2 linked regions of the Homo sapiens genome follow. The protein of the gene in region 1 purifies or fractionates together with the protein of each later gene. This does not show direct contact. Each region holds a gene or a part of one and is shown on either strand. Other genes may lie near its edges.

Evidence for each region. The genes of interacting proteins can lie anywhere in the genome.
Region 2: the proteins of FBXW2 (region 1) and OSGEPL1 purify together in Homo sapiens (affinity purification with mass spectrometry, with the first as the bait; one large-scale study listed by BioGRID). This does not show direct contact.

Annotation. Positions count from the first base shown.
Region 1 is NC_000009.12:120,772,917-120,776,416, reverse strand, and holds part of FBXW2 (F-box/WD repeat-containing protein 2), read left to right. Parts: intron 1-190; coding exon 191-324; intron 325-3,500. UniProt on the Homo sapiens protein: Substrate-recognition component of the SCF (SKP1-CUL1-F-box protein)-type E3 ubiquitin ligase complex.
Region 2 is NC_000002.12:189,746,160-189,749,476, forward strand, and holds the end of OSGEPL1 (tRNA N6-adenosine threonylcarbamoyltransferase, mitochondrial), read right to left. Parts: intron 1,923-3,317; exon of another isoform or gene 1,173-1,922; coding exon of another isoform or gene 1,103-1,172; exon of another isoform or gene 1,010-1,102; coding exon of another isoform or gene 973-1,009; 3' UTR 501-972; downstream 1-500. Other genes in the region: ANKAR (ankyrin and armadillo repeat-containing protein), read left to right, coding at 221-468. UniProt on the Homo sapiens protein: Required for the formation of a threonylcarbamoyl group on adenosine at position 37 (t(6)A37) in mitochondrial tRNAs that read codons beginning with adenine.

The sequences.
Region 1 (3,500 bases):
AGAATAATAAGCTATAATAGTAAGAATTTTGAAATAGTTTTATCAGAAAATTGCTAGTTGAATAGCATCATTCTTACGGTGTCTCTGGTTGGGAAATTATATAATTGGGGAAAATAAACATTATTGAACTCTATTATAAAAGACCCACTGACAGAGACATGTTTTAACTTTGTGTAATTATATGCACTAGTATTTAGCGTGGACTACAATGATGAACTGGATATCTTGGTGAGCGGCTCTGCAGACTTCACTGTGAAAGTATGGGCTTTATCTGCTGGGACATGCCTGAACACACTCACCGGGCACACGGAATGGGTCACCAAGGTAGGAAGACTTGGAAGAAGTCTCCTGCTTATCAGGCTTTTTGAGGGAGGGCGTGGAGGATGGTAGACACTGCCTTATAAGTGTTAGGTGAGTCATAAGATGGAATTGCTGTACCTACAAAGCATAATGGTACACAACAGTGACCAGCAAGTAGAAGGTACTTAATACATGGTTTAACAAATAAATGACTTATGGACATGGAAAGTTGCCCACAATATATTAGGTGGATAGAGGGGGCAAATAAAACAGATTACATACAAAAAAATATGTAGAGTGTGATACCGGTTTCTGAATGTGTTCATGCATCAAAATGTTGAAGGTGGGTATTTCTGGTGGGATTGTGGGCGTGTTTTTCCCTTTAGAATAAACATGTTTCTTTCTTAATCAGAAAAGCAATTTTCATTTTGAAAAAATAACGCTTACAAGAAGTAGGACAAAGAAAACTGTACAGGATCTTTAGTAAAATATTGTAATGTTTTCTTTTTTAAAAAAAACAAGATTGTTGTGAGGATCAAATGCAGTATTAATAATGGATATACCACGCAGAAGCACTTTTCTTGAGTTTACCATCCCATTCTATGAGGGGGCTGAGAAAACAGGAGTAAGCAAAATAGACCCAGTCCTTACCCTGTGGATGATAGTCTAATAGGAGAAATAGTTTTATTAAACAATTTCATGGGTAAATATATCATTTCAAATTGTGTTAAGTTTTGTGAAGGAACAGTACAGTGTTCTATAAGACAGTCTAGGGCCAGGCACAGAGGCTTACATGTGTAATCCCAGCACTTTGGGAGGCCAAGGCGGGCGGATCACCTGAGCCCAGGAGTTCGAGGCCAGCCTGGCCAACATGGTGAAACTCCGTCGCTACTGAAAGTACAAAAATCAGCCAGGCGTAATCCCAGCTACTCAGGAGGCTGAGACAGGGGAATTAACTTGAAGCTGGGGAGGCGGAGGTTGCAGTGAGCCAAGATCGTGCCACTGCACTCCACCCTAGGCAACAAAGTGAGACTCTTTCAAAAAAAAAAAAAAGTATAGGAAAGTAATTAGTTCAGAAAAAAGTTTTTGAGAAGGGGGTTAAACATGAAGAATAAATAGGAGATAGCTGTGGAAAGAGTAGCTGAAAGATTGTTTCAGAGGGTGCAATACATGCACGGGCCCAGCGGGTGGAAAGAACTTGGAACATTTGATGACCTGGACATAAGCCAGTGGAGCCATGCTGTAGTTGGGAAGATGGGCAGAGAGGTGGTAATCCTGTATGATTTATAAGGCCACAGTAAGTATGGTGGATATCATCAGAAGTGTACTAGGAAGCAATCCACGAGTTCTGAGCAAGTGTCTGGTGCGATCTATGTTTTAGGAAAATTAACTGCTGAATGAAGAATGGACTAGAGTTGGGCACAAGTGGATACAGGGTGACCATTTAGGCTTTGGCAGTAATCTAAGCAAAAGATGCCCATAACTTAGATTTTCCTGGCAATAATGAAAAGGGCACCCATAAAGGATATGTCTTTAAGGTAAAGCCACCTGGCTTGCAGATTCACTGTGGGAAACAAAGAAGAATCATTTGTTGTTGTTTTAATACAGACAGGGTCTCATTCTGTTGCCCAGGCTGGAATGCCGTGTCATGATCATAGCTCTCTGCAACTTTGAATCCCCAGGCTTAAGTGATCCTCTCACCTCAGCCTCCCGAGTAGCTAGCACTACAGCCACGTGCCACCACACTGAGCTAATTTCTTTTTTTTTTTTTTTTTTTTTGAGATGGAGTTTCACTCTTGTTGCGCAGGCTGGAGTGCAGTGGCACGATCTCGGCTCACTGCAGCATCCATCTGCCGGGTTCAAGTGATTCTCCTGCTTCAGCCTCCAGAGTAGCTGGGATTACAGGCGCCCACCACCATGCCTGGCTAATTTTTTGTGTTTTTAGTAGAGACGGAGTTTCATTGTGTTGGCCAGGCTGGTCTCGAACTCCTGACCTCAGGTGATCCACCCACCTCGGCCTCCCAAAATGCTGAGATTACAGGCGTGAGCCACCGTGCCCAGCTGCTAATTAAAAAAAATTTTTTGTGTGTGGAGATGGGGGTCTTGCTGTGTTGCCCAGGCTGGTCTTGAACTCCTGGCCTCAAGCAGTCCTCCCTCCTCGGCCTCTCAAAGTGCTGGGATTATAGGCATGAGCCACTGTGCCTAGCCCATGTTAACTTTTTACATGGAAAAGCTATATAGTGTAAGGCAGTTTGGTGTTGTGGAAAATAGTTGATTGGGGCTAGGACACTGACGGTGATGTCTTGGACAAGTTACTCCACCTTCAGGACCTGAGCTGTGTCATCTGCTAAATGTTCCTGTGAACACGAAATGAAATGTTGGGACAGCACCCAGCAAGGTGCCTGATACTTAGTAATAGGTCTGTTTCAGTTGAGTCTGCAATCCAGACTTCTGAATGAGTGAACCCTGCTTCCCCTCTCACCTTAGCCTGATTGATTGCAAAAATAGCTAGAACCTGATGTTTATATACTTATCTCAAGTGCTAACAGAATGTTAGCTTTTATTTTGTTACTACTATAATTTACATTGTTACTTTATCTTTACTGTAATTAAATGAGGTAAGATAATAGGTGCTTGTCTCCTGTTTTAAAGATCAAGAAACTGACCGAGTTTAGATGGTCTTGTCCAAGGTTGCAAAGTCAGCATATGGCAGATTCTGGTCCCAAGTCCAGTGCTTTTTCATTTATGATTCACATAGTTATGAAAGCAGATCATTTGCATCTACGTCAGTGTCTACGGGCTTTTTTCTTTTCTGTTCCCTCTCTTAAGTTACATTTTATAATTTTAAAAAATCAGTCCTAATGTTTGCTTCTAGACGAATGCTAAGATTAAATGCTGCCAATGTTTAGACTGTTTTTTTTTTTTTTTAAGCGTTGTGGTCTTGCTCTGTTGCCCAGGTTGGAGTGCAGTGGTGCAATCATAGCTCACTGCATCCTCCAACTCCTGGGCTCAAGCAATCCTCCCACCTCAGCCTTCCGAGTCACTGGGATTATAGGCGTGACCCACCTCATCTGGCTAACGTTAGACACTTTTAGATACTGCTAATAACAGAGAATATTGTAGTAAAACTTTTAGTAGAGGTTAATTTGGTAATGGAGTTATGGCTTAGCTATTCTAGCATATGTTAAGCTCATTTTTGT
Region 2 (3,317 bases), on another chromosome or scaffold:
ATTCGTTCTCTTATTGGTGCTAACTTGACATAACAAGCTAGCAAACCATATAGTGGTCCCCACAAATTTTTGGCCCCTGACATCTAAATGTCTGGAAGTACTGATCTGTTCTCTTAGTATGTTTTAGTTATGTAAAGAAAATAGAACTACATAGAAGTAGAAGTAATGAGACTATACCTAGGGCTCTCAGGAGAGACATTTAATTGTGGCTAATTTTTAGGGAAGGAGCACCGAAGAAAATTAAAACCTAAAATTCAACCAAAAGATTCTTTGACTTTATTACCTCCTGTAACTAACTTCATGGGACTCTTCAAAGCAACAAAAAAGACCAAGGATTCCCATAATATTTTTTCTTTTTCATCTACAATTACATCAGATATCACAAATGTATCAAGACCAAGAATAGTGTGTTTGAACCAACTTGGGAAACATGTCCAGAAAGCCAACCCAGAGCCTGCAGAAGGCTAATAAAACATTTTAGAATGAAAGGATTCCTGAGCCATCTTTTAAAAATTTTTTTATTTTTAATAATGGTAATATGCAAATAACATAACTGAATAATCTTTTTGAATGAAAGTTCTTGATCTCGATACTAAGCAGATTTTCCTTAGCATGTCTACAGGAATTTAGTGTCAGGTCAGAGTTATGGTTTCAAAAAATTAGGATTTCTGTAAACAAAGGCCTGCACTTAAACCTTAAAATTTATTGACTGACATGAGTGGTATAACTAGTGTATATATCAAGAGTTAACATTTTTAAATTGGTGTGCAAGAAGCCTGATTCAAAGTAGCTCACATGGTAACATTTATTGTAATACTTTGAGATATTTAGTAATAAATATTACAAATGTATAAGTCTTCTAAGACCCAAAATGTATACCTTAAGAAACATTTTGGCTAGGCATGGTGGCTCACACCCATAATCCCAGCACTTCTGGAGGCCAAGGTGGGAGGATCACTTGAATTCAGCAGTTCAGGACCAGCCCGGGCAACATGGCAAGAGCCTGTCTCTACAAAAAATAGAAATAAAGTTGGCTGGGCATGGACATGCACACCTGTAGTCCCGGCTATTCAAGAGGCTAAGGCAGGAGGATTGCTTGAGTTCAGGAAGTCAGGGTTGCAGTGAGTTGTGATCTGGCTACTGTACTCCAGCTGAGGTCAGAGAGTGAGACCCTGTCTCAAAAAAAAAAAAAAAAAAAAAGTCTGAGAGTCAGTGGATGAAGCAGAAAAGAAAAATTAAAAAAGAAAATAAAACAAAAATTTTTTAAAAGGGAAAAAAAGTTTTATTTAAAAATAAAATCTGAAATCATTGCCCATCAAGTACATGAGTATGGCTTTTGTGGCTAACAGTGTTGCTCATTCTCCATATTTATAGTGTCTTTGGTTTGCAACTGGAAAGGGTAATAGTCTTTGTGGCTTAGAACCATATGATGTCTTTGCTCAAATAGCAATGTCTGCTTCTCCTATTTTATAGCTGCAGATAGATATGATACAAACACCTGGCTTCACTGTGTACTTTATTTTACTTACTTACTTATTTATTTATTTATTCGAGATGGAGTCTTGCTCTGTCACCCAGGCTGGAGTGCAGTGGCAGGATCTTGGCTCACTCCGCCTCCTGGGTTCAGGCAATTCTCCTGCCTCAGCCTCTTGAGTAGCTGCGGTTACAGGCGCCTGCCACCACACCTGGCTAATTTTTGTATTTTTAGTAGAGATGAGGTTTCACCATGTTGGCCAGGCTGGTCTTGAACTCCTGACATCAGGTGATCCGCCTACCTTGGCCTCCCAAAGTGCTGGGATTACAGGTATGAGCCACTGCGCCTGGCTTCACTGTGTACTTTAAAGCTCCCCTTTTCTCCATCCACTTGCTGAATTGCCTCCATACAGTCTGAGGGTCTTGCTATAATCCATTCTCTACCTGGGCTGCAGTAAGCATTGAAAGTATATATTAATTAGCGGTTATTTTCCCCGATATGTACTTAGGGCTTTCTATGTGCTAGAGTCCAAAGTCAGTGGGTGAGTGAGTGGGTGAATGAATTATTATTTATTTATTTGTCTGTTTAAGACAGGGTCTTGCTCTGTTACCCAGGTTGGACGGCAATAGTGCAATCATAGCTCACTGTAGCCTATAACTCCTGGGTTCAAAGCAATCATCCCACCTCAGCCTCCTGAGTGGCTAGGGCTACAGGTTCTCAGTCTTTGTTATGCTGAGTGTGGTGGTACAGGCGTGTAGCCCTAGCTACTCAGGAAGCTGAGGTCTCTGCTATGTTGCCCAGGCTGGTCCCGAATTCCTGGCCTCAAGTGATCCTCCTCCCTTGGCCTCCCAAAGCATTAGGATGAGCTACCATGCAAAGTTTGTGTTCTTAACCACTAAAAAATAAGAGACCTCTTTAATCTTCATATTTACTTCTAAATTATCTTAATGGTGCTGAGTCACAACTTTCTGGTGGATTGACTGAAATATAGGAAATGCGGAGGGAAATGGTCTATTTTATACTAGAAAGGGATACATATTCAAGTGATGAATTGTGTTATCCAGCACCATTAAGGATAAGAATTTATAACAATGGAAATATTAAGTTTCTGTAGATATTTTTAAAAGCCTTTAGAGAGCAACTTTTGAGCTCTGAAACTGGTTTCAGGTAGGCTCAAGACTATACTTTAGGACTATTTTCAGGTTATCAGAGTTTCTTTGCATTCAATGCCAGATATTTCCTGAGTATCTTGGCCTAGCCAGACCATCCTACCACTCCTAAAATTTATACTACTTCTCCTATAAATCTCCCCTATAAAGATTATTTTTATTGGCTGGGCATGATGGCTCACACCTGTAATCCCAGCACTTTGGGAGGCCAAGGCGGGTGGATCACATGGTCAGGAGTTCGAGACCAGCCTAGCCAGCATGGTGAAACCCCATCTCTACTAAAAATACAAAAAATGAGCTGGGCATGGTGGTGCTTGCCTGTAGTCCCAGCTACTCGGGAGGCTGAGACAGGAGAATTGCTTGAACCTGGCAGACGGAGGTTGCAGTGAGCCGAGATCGAGCCATTGCACTCCAGTCTGGACAACAGAGCGAGACTCTGTCTAAAAAAAAAAAAAAAAAAAAAAAGATTATTTTTATTACTCCACGGTTTTTTTTTTTTTAAACAATGTGTGAAAAGTCAGGCCCTGGAGGCTGAAGTTGGAGGATTACATGAGCCTAGGAGTTCTACTCCAGCCTGGGCAACATAGCAAGATGCTGTCTATAAAAATCGAAATAAAAAATTATGTATGAGAAAGGCCTCCAGATATAGAGGGTTACATTCAAAGAATTGTACA